2 separate regions of the Homo sapiens genome follow, and region 1 is linked to region 2. The links come from fine-mapping of genetic effects on gene expression. A gene starts in region 2. The other region holds a variant in brackets. All regions are shown on one strand. Distances are from middle to middle.

Evidence for each region. PIP is the estimated chance that this variant, and not a neighbour inherited with it, causes the effect. A credible set is the group of variants that fine-mapping cannot tell apart.
Region 1: its variant is the best candidate, but not a certain one, in a credible set for the expression of DNAH5-AS1 in prefrontal cortex (GTEx, PIP 0.51).

What each region holds. Positions count from the first base shown.
Region 1 is chr5:13,896,194-13,901,193 of GRCh38, reverse strand. It overlaps DNAH5 (dynein axonemal heavy chain 5), which reads left to right. Exons shown (of 79, transcript NM_001369.3): 15 at 782-988. It overlaps DNAH5-AS1 (DNAH5 antisense RNA 1), which reads right to left. Exons shown (of 3, transcript NR_199035.1): 2 at 4,449-4,605; 3 at 142-3,659. Among named protein-coding and RNA genes, the nearest start is that of DNAH5-AS1, 38 kb to the right of the region's middle. The variant C/T (reference allele first, on the strand shown) is at 2,790.
Region 2 is chr5:13,858,300-13,863,299 of GRCh38, reverse strand. DNAH5-AS1 (DNAH5 antisense RNA 1) reads right to left here and starts at 2,861. Exons shown (of 3, transcript NR_199035.1): 1 at 2,745-2,861. It overlaps DNAH5 (dynein axonemal heavy chain 5), which reads left to right. Exons shown (of 79, transcript NM_001369.3): 29 at 553-752; 30 at 3,695-3,848. RefSeq lists an enhancer at 3,234-4,433.

The DNA.
Region 1 (5,000 bases), 38 kb before region 2:
CATTTGACAGTGTTATTTCTTTAGAAAGCTGGATTTGTAGGTGTTTTGTAAGGCAGATGGGTTGAATCTAAGCGTTCAGAGTGTAATATGTCCACAAAGAAAAATAATTATTAGATTTGAAAAGAAACCACAAGCCAGGTAACAGAACCCCATTTTTATTTAATTTACGAACTCCAAAGTGAGAAGATCTTGTTTATTGGTTCCTATGCCCAATCTATTAGGATATCTTGCTTTTTAAAATTCAGTCAGATCCTAAATATGTCAGTAAACACTAGCACATCTGTTAAACAAAGTTTCAAATTTTCTTTTGTTGTACAACTGGTTAATCATAGCATATCCTACCAATACATGTATTTCTTTGTAGGCTGTCAGGATGCGATGTCTCCATAGCTGTGTTCATTGTTTTTCTAGATAAGTAAAAACTGAGTTTAGGAGGTCTTACGAAACTTTTATTAGGAAGAATAATAGAGTAGGCATGAAGGTATCAGGTAGCTAAATGGCTTTTGAGACGCCACCACTGTTGCAGTGTCCACTTATTTATCAGTGTTAGAGTCATTGAAAGGTTTTATTGAATTGACTGCCCAACATCAACACCAAGAACTTGAAGGCTATTGTATGAGACTGGATTTAGGAGAAGAGTGAGTGATCTTATTGCCCTTAATTTAGGAAGCTCAAATCCATGGAAGAACATTTAATGATCCTTATTCCTAGAGATAGCTGAGCTAGATACTCTGCATGAATTGAACTTTCTGATAGTAATGATGTTGGTTTCTTCCCACAGATTGAAGAAATTCATGTAGGTCTTGAGGCTTCATTATTGGTGAAGGCTCCAGGCACAGGGGAATTGTTTGTAAACTTTGACCCTCAGATATTAATCTTATTTAGAGAAACAGAGTGCATGGCCCAGATGGGTCTGGAAGTCTCTCCACTGGCAACTTCCCTCTTCCAGAAACGAGATAGATACAAAAGGAACTTCAGTAACATGAAGGTATACTACTTTTATTTTTTCCCCCCATTCTTGGCTAGCTCTGGAATGTATTATAAAAAAATATGGTGATGTGTCATATTCAAGGAGCAGAAAGTGGCCAGGATGAATGGAGTGACTGAGGGGACAGTGCCATGGGGTGCAGCTGCAGAGTTGGCTGGGGCCAGGCCGTTACAGGTCTTGCAGGCCAAGATGAGAAGCTTGGGTTTTATTTTGAGTGTACCAGGAAACCATTGGAGGATTTCGAGCCACTGAAAAAGGCACGATCTCTTTTTATAATAAAAGTTATTCTTACTGCTGGGTGGAAAATGGATGTTAAGAGGGACGAGGGGTATCAGCGGGAAGCCTGTTTGTGAAGTGTTGCACTGGCCCAGGATGAAGATGAGAGCTTGAACTGGGATGGCAGCAGAGTTGTTTGGAGAATTTAGAGTTATGTCAACAGTCAGGTTATAAGAGAACTCAGGAATAATACCTGTGGTTTTGGTGTGAGCAGTTCCATGAATTAAAGCAGGGGTGCCGTAGAATGCTGTGTAGGTTGCATTCTTCATAACTTGCACAATACCATGCAGGGGCCCTGACTGTAAGTTCAAGTTATGGAGATGGCGAAAACCGAAACTAGTGTATTTGGAGCAGCAGGAGGGAATCAGTAGTTCCCATTTAAGTACAAGATAGTTTTTAGACAGCCAAGTGGCAGTGTTGTCCATGCAGTTGGATACTTAAGTCTGGAGTTCAGTGGAGAAGCCAAAGTGGGAGGCATGCTTCTGAGAGTTATCAGAATATCATTGTTATTTAATGTCATTGTCCTGGATGAGATCTCTTAGGGGAGAGAATACAGACAGAGAAGAATGGAGGGCCACTGGGCCAAGCATTGGGTTGTTCCAGTATTAACAGATCTGAAAGAAGAAGACAGGTGTGCAAATAAAACAGAGGACTGACCTCTGAGCTGGGAAGAAACCAAGTGTCAAGGAGACCAAGGATGGCCGGGCACGGTGGCTCATGCCTGTAATCCCAGCACTTTGGGAGGCTGAGACTGGCAGATCACCTGAGGTCAGGAGTTCGAGACCAGCCTGGCCAACGTGGTGAAACCCCGTCTCTATTAAAAATACAAAAATTAGCTGAACATGTTGGCATGTGCCTGTAATCTCAGCTACTTGGGAGGCCGAGGCAGGAGAATCTCTTGAACCTAGAGATGGAGGTTGCAGTGAGCTGAGATTGCACCACTGCACTCCAGCCTGGGTGACAGAGCGAGATCCGTCTCAAAAAACAAACAAACAAAAAACAACAAAAAAAGGAAGCCAAGGGTATGAAAAGGCTACTGAGAGAGGGACTGGTCACCAGTGGCAAATGCTGCTACCCAGGGGATGAAGAAGGTGAGATCAGAGATGCGGCCATGGAATCTGACAACATGGAAACCATTGTTAAAATTTCATAGTGGTTAACATCACGTGACAATACTAAGTCCATGCACTTGCACTGTACTTTACATTTAAAGCCATTTTCATGCTCATTATTTCATCTGATCTTTTCTACCACTACGTTAGGTAAGTAGGACAGAATACTATTATTTTATTTCGTAGATGACAAAACTGTGGCTTAGAGAAGTTAAAAGATTTAGCAAAGGTCTCATAGCTACAAAGTGGCAGAAGTAAGACCAGAACCCAGACTTGTAGTCCATCGTCTTCCCACCACTTCATGTCATATTAAAAAGTTGTATTGGCAATGGACAGACATTCCTCAAATGTAGACTCATAAAATACCAGTCAGCATGTTGAGATTCCCTTTTAGACTCTTTCACATTAGGAAA[C/T]TCACTTAGTCAATTTACATATTCATAAAGAAAATAATATTTTTACTAAGAAACTATAATTATAAGATTATGGAATTACTGATAATTTAATTGTATTTGCAGAGTTGTTGTTTCACTTGTCTGTTTCAGGCAACAAACACTTGTAAGCACGTTGTAGGGTTTACAATAACCGTATCATTATATCATGACTTTATGGGTAAAGAACTTGAGTGGGGCTTGCATAGGTGATTCTTCTGTTCCATGTATTGTTGACAAAGGTTGTTTATTGGTATTCAACTGGCAGATGTTCAATCTGTAAGGTCCAAGAAGGGTTCTTCTAGTTTCTGTTTCTTTCCTGAGGAAAGCTGGAAGGTACACTCCAGTGGGACTGTGAACAGGCACATCTATACATGGCCTTCCAGTATGGAGGCCTCTGGCTAGTAGAATTTCTTATATGGCAGCTCAGGGTTTCAAGAACAAGCGCTACAGTGAACAATAAAGAAGTCACATGGTCTTTATAATAGCCTCAGATGTCTCACAGCATCATCTCTGTTGTACTCTGTTGGACTGTAAACCTACCCAGATTCAAAAAAAGGGGATGTGGTTCCCCCCTCCCCCATGAAGGGAAGAGGATCAAAGAATGTTTTAAATGACAATTCAAGGGAGTAAATTATCATCTCATTAACATTTATTATCTTGGAGGTTGAGAGTTAAAAGTTTCTGCTCAACCTGAGTAGCTGGTCAAAGCAGATCTATTGGCAGGTTTAGGTGACCATCTGAAGTGTTGCAGAATTATTGTGCTGAATATTTGACAGAGCTTTCAGGCTTTTGCAGATATGCCAAAGTAGCTGAGAATTTGTTTCTTCATCTCTTCCTTGGAAGACAGTTTAACTAGAAAGAGAAGACCAAGTACAGGCTAATAGTTACAAATATAGGTTCTGAAGCCAATTTAATCTGGATTCAAATCATTATCTTTGGGTAAATGACTTCACCTTCTAAGCCTGGGTTTCTCTTTTGTCAAAGCAGTTGAGTAATCCCTTCTGGGATTAAAGGTGGGAAGTAGAATGCCTGCTAGAAGCAGATTCTAAGAACTGCTTCCAGATAGAATAACTGGTGGACATTGAAAAAAAACAAGCAGTGGATACAAGTTTCAGGAAATATGTAAGTAGCTGCGAATAGAACCAGAAAATTTAGACTTTTCTAAAGTGGCTTTTATGGACATTGAAAGAATCTTATAGAAATTGTGGAAAAACATTATATGAGGAAAGGATTATGAGGTCCATCTGGGAAATACTGTGTTTAACAAAATTTTCAAAGCCTTGCAAGGCTTCTTACTTCCTTAAGCAGGTTTCTAAGAATCATTAATATTAGCTGTGACCACCCAAGAGGGGAGATATTGTATGCAGCATTTTCAAAATTTATCTATCAAAGGGACATTTTTTCTTATAGAATCTCTTTGGACCTAGTACTCTAGGCAAAACAGTTTGGAAAACATTCATCTATTATCAAGGTAAAACCAACATGCACATATATGACCTTAATACCAACTGTATTTATGGGGCACATTAAAGTTAGTTTCTTATAATTAATGATTATTAATATTGACATGGTTACATATGAACAAAATATTGACAGTTTGACATTATGTAAATAATACTGACACAGTTTGACATTATGTACCTTTCAGTGAAAGATGAGAATGCCCATTTCAGATGAAAAATCCTTCTGATAACAACTAATTAGATAGATATTGATTTATTATCTCCTATGTGCCAGGCACTGGTTCAGGCTCACTGGACAAAGCAGACAAAATTCTTGTCCTTGTAGAACTTATAGTCTAATTGGGTAAAACAGAAAATGAACACTGTAAGTAAGTAAATTAATATAGTCTATTGTAATAAAGTGATAGTTATTATGGACAAAAAAGGGGGATAAAATGTGTGAGTGGTTTTGGTGGTGGTTTATAATCTTAAACAGGTAGTCAGGACAGGTATAATTGAGAAAGTATCATTTGAGTACTTATTTGAAGGAGGTGCAAAGGCCCTGAGGCTCAGGACCAGAAAGGAAGACAGTCAGGCAAGTGCAGGTAAGAGAGGGAAAGAGTGGTTGGAGATGAGATCAGAGAAGTAATGGGACAAAATCGGGTAGATCTTTCTAGAACAAGCATCTATCCAAGTCCTTTGTATAAAGGTTTGTAGCCCTGAATTAAATGGGAGGCTATGTAACCATGTG
Region 2 (5,000 bases):
AGTGATTGAAGTCATGGGTGTAAATGAGCTCACCCAGAGGGGGAACATAGGTGGGAAGAAATGAGGGTAAAGGAAGGGCTTGACTAATGGTCTAGGAGAAGGTTGAGGCCATGAGGAGACTGGGAAAGTCAACAGAGCCATGGGAGAATCAGGTTTCTGCTACCTGTGTTCATTCACATGCTGCATTCACTTGACTTTAGAGGTAGATCAGAAATACATTGAATTTTGAATCAGTGATTAAAGTTTCAAAATTTAAAAGTGATTTGCATATATTTTCTGTCATCTTTCCTTTTGGGCAAGTTTGCTGGGAAATTTTATAAATTAAAGTTCTATTTTTCAGTCATATCTTTATCTCCATCTCTCTTCATGCATCAGTATCTGCGTATACACCTTCTGTTTATTATATTGCATTTTAGGTCTGGAAATATAAAAGTTTATATATATATTTATATATATATGAAGCAAATAGTGAAGATGGGGTATTGCACGTAGACTATTAAGGAAGGACGTGTGACTTTCATGCAATAACATGAGAGCTTGCCATTTTGATAGGACATCTGTATCAGTGCGGTGAAAGAGAGAGACATTGAGCAAAAGCTGAAGCAAGTGATTAATGAATGGGACAATAAAACATTCACCTTCGGCAGCTTTAAAACCCGTGGAGAGCTCCTCTTGAGAGGAGACAGTACCTCGGAAATCATCGCCAACATGGAGGACAGCTTGATGTTGCTGGGATCCCTACTGAGCAACAGGTGGGAAAACCATCTATCTTTTCCCTTAGATTTGAGAACCGTAATAGCAAACATTTAAAATTAATGAAAAATCCATTACAATAATAGCCTTCATATAGTTTACTCAATGTTGAAAATACTTGTTTTAATTACATTGATTAATTAATTTTTATATCCAAAACATATTTTTACTCAGGTACCCACTTATATATACATCATCAAGAGATTATATTTCAATTATTCTTGTTTTCATTTTGGCCTCAGGCACATGTTAGAGCATGTGTAACTCTGGTTTTATTTCATTATCCTCTATTTGTGGGGTATGTCTGAGACCATCCACTGGACAAAATAATGCAACGTATAATTAGCCACTCGGCTCTTGGGAACATTTCAGCTTGCTGCTGACAAGCCTGACTGCACAGCTCATAGCTCTACAGGCTGTAGAATCCAGGAGGAACATTATTTTGAATTTCAGAATAATCATTTTACTCGAAAAACCTTTTTTACCAATATCTGTGGACTAGAAACTCTTAGTTGTTTACATACTCTATTTTTTATATTTGTACAAATTTATGGGGTACATTTGAACTTGTTTTTTTTTTTTTTTTTTTTTTTTGAGATGGAATCTTGCTTTGTCACCCAGGCTGGAGTGCAATGGCGTGATCTCAGCTCACTGAAACCTCAGCCTCCCTGGCTCAAGTGATTCTGCCGCAGCTTCCTGAGTACTGGGATTACAGGCAACAGCCACCACGCCTGGCTAATTTTTGTATTTTTAGTAGAGACAGGGTTTCACCATGTTGGCCAGGCTGGTCTCAAACTCCTGGTCTCAGGTGATCTGCCCGCCTTGGCCTCCCAAAATGCTGGCATTACAGGCATGAGCCACTGTGCCTGTCCACATGTGAACTTTCATTACATGTATATAATGCATAGTGGCCACCCCTCACATTTTGGACATACAAACCACACAGTCATGAATTTACATTTCCTTGTTTCATTGCTTCCATTTGCTCTTTCTGAAATAATGTTTTTGTTCCCCAGAATCTTCTCAAATATATGGTAATTGTGCAGAAAGTGGATACCATTGAGATATGAATTTGTTGTTCTATTCTAGCTTTAAAATATCACCCAATTCTCCATATATATGTGTATCAATACTTTTAATGTTGGAAATACTGTGTACTTCATACTATTTCAAAAAAATTTCTCTTATTTCAGTTTACTTGTTACACTAAAGTAATATTGGGATATAAAGTTAGACCATTAGTAATCTTGAGTTTGGACTTCTCAGGATTTAGTGAGTTTTAATGAACTTGGTTACTATTCATACCAAACCAGAATAAAGGATAGACAGGCAATAATATACCCTAGGGAGATAGAAAAGACACTCATGTAAATTAAGTAAAAATTATCTGGTTGGGGTGGGGAAACTTTTCTTTTCAATGGCATCTAATCTACAGATAGAGTTATTGGGAGGAGTATTTTTTCAATATATATTTATTGAACCTTTACTATGTGTGTGATGTACTCTTCTAGGCGCTGTGGGTAGAACAACAAATAAGGGAAAGATCTCTGTTTCTATGGACCTATATTTCTAGTGAAGAGCATACAAATATTCAGAAAGATGCATGGAATATTAAAACAATTTGGTTAACAATTAAGAATATGGAAATTAAACTTTTATGCAATAATACGACTTCAAGTCCATATTATGTAGGGCTAGAGAGAACCATGAAGGGATAAGAAAGAGAAGAAGAGACACAAAGGTAGGCTGTATAATCATTTAGGATTAAGTTTGTCTGTAAATAACAGAAACACCACATACAAAATGGCTAATATAACACTGATGTTTATATTGCTCACGCATAAAAGAATTCCTAATGTAGGTGGTTCAGGTTGGAATGGGGGCTTTACCACATCATCAGGGACCCAAGCTTGGTCTGGCTCACTCATCTGTCTTTCCCAGGTGTGACCTTATTCCCCATACTACCCATTACATCCAATGCCACTACTCACATTTCATGTAGAAGAGTTGTTCTCAATCTTTGCAACGTACCAGATACACTGAAGGAACTTAAAAAAATCCCAATGCCAGGGCCACTTCCCAGACCCATTGAATCAGAGTCTCTGTACGTAGGACCCAGGCAGGCATCAGTAATTTTTAATGCTGGCGAGATGATTCCAGTGTTCAGCTATGAGATCATTCCAGTGTTCCGCTAAATTAAGCACTGTTGATGTGGAACTTAGTCTTCTGACTGCACATTACTGCAAAGGGAAGCTGGGAAATTCAGTAATTTAGCTGGGTAATTATGAGCCCACATGGAAAAGCAGAAGGAAAAAAGGACATTGGGAGGCCACCCACAGGCAGTCTGTCTCAAAGAGGAAAAGGGGAAGACAGATTAACTATGGAAGAGGCAGTAATCTTGCACACATGTACATCAAACATGAGTGGGTTGGACACAGGTGCGTGGGAAGTTAGAAAGAGACTCAGAAAAGGGGAGGCTAAGGAGAGAGTCCAGGTGTTATCATATTTGAAGATTGAATTAGTTGTCTGGTCCCCACTGATGGTTCTATAAAAGCTCCATATTATATGAAAAACCAGAGACTCCATGAAATAGGCACAGAAGCTCAGTAGGGCAAATATTATTCTCGTAGCCATAGCAGCACTGAGGGTAATTATATTACCCTGGAAGCTTGGTGGAATCAAGTCTAATGCCTGATCTACTCCTTAGATTATAAATCTCCCACCCTTCTCTATGCTCTGGATCAAAAGGGAAAAAGCTAGACTAACAATGAACAGTAAGTGGGGATGAATTAATCACTTGGTTGCATCACTTTAAAAGCCAGCAACATAATTAAGGTTGTAAAGAAAGCGGTTAAAAATTAAGATTTTTAAAAACCTTTTTAATTTGAAACAACAGCACAACAAAAACAAAACCAAACCCTAAACCTATTTCTTATTTTAGGTACAATATGCCATTCAAAGCCCAGATTCAAAAATGGGTGCAGTACCTTTCCAACTCAACAGACATCATCGAGAGCTGGATGACGGTGCAAAACCTGTGGATTTATTTAGAAGCTGTCTTTGTGGGAGGAGACATTGCCAAGCAGCTGCCCAAGGTTTTGTAATCTTCTTTATGATTTCATCAGATTTTTCAGAGAAAGCTCTCAGAGCGATTACCCCCTTAAATAATGCAATAATATTCCACTTCTATTGAACCCCCTTCCTTCAATCTTTTTGTTGTCACTGTTAATGCTGTTATTCTTCAAAGGGAGTGAGGAATTGTGGAAAGGAAAGGGGTGACAATCAGAGTAAGAATGCTGTAAAACTGTGGAGGTTTGATAGGAGATAGAGGGTTAAAAAAACAAAAAATAAGTGGTCGCATAATTGATATGCTTCTTTAGATAATTTCAAGGTAGAATTTGGAACAGTGTAGAATTATGGTGCAGTTATCTTGACAATGGTAGGCTAAGTTTTTCTACTACAGACATTTTAAAGTAATGCATACTATACAATGTACCCAATTATATCTGTACAGTAAAATTGAGGGGTGGAAATGTGCAGAAAAAATCTCCAAAACAAAAAGACCTTCTTTTCAAGATGTCAAGTATATATTTATCATCAAATCGTAATCATCTTACTGGGTATATATGGAGTATATTTTGAGATTTTTAAATGAACATTTTAACCAATTCTCAAGGATTCTTATTCAATTACCTTAAGTCGTATGCAAGATTATAACATTTTAACAATATATTTCAGTTTTAGAAGCATGATTATTTTAAATGTTTTCATCACATAGGTTTCTGAACTTCTTTTTTGGTTAGTTTTCAGTTTAATTACAGATGACAGATAAAATCAGACTGCAGACCATTTATTTTGGAGGCAATAGTGAAATGTATTCACTCACTAAAATTTTACTTTATTTTTGATTTGTATTTGTGCATGTTTTTCATCTTCTTTTCTTAAAGGTTTTAAGTAGGAGGTTTGGATTTTTTTTTTAAATTATATTTAAGTTCTGGGATACATGTGCAGAATGTGCAGGTTTGTTACATAGGAATACAGGTGCCATGGTGGTTTGCTGGACCCAGCAACCTGTCATCTACATTAGGTATTTCTCCTAATGCTATCCCTCCCCTTGCCCCACACCCCCTGACAGGCCCCAGTGTGTGATGTTCCCCTCCCTGTGCCCATATGTTCTCATTGTTCAACTCCCACTTATGAGTGAGAACATGCAGTGTTTGGTTTTCCATTCCTGTGCTAGTTTTCTG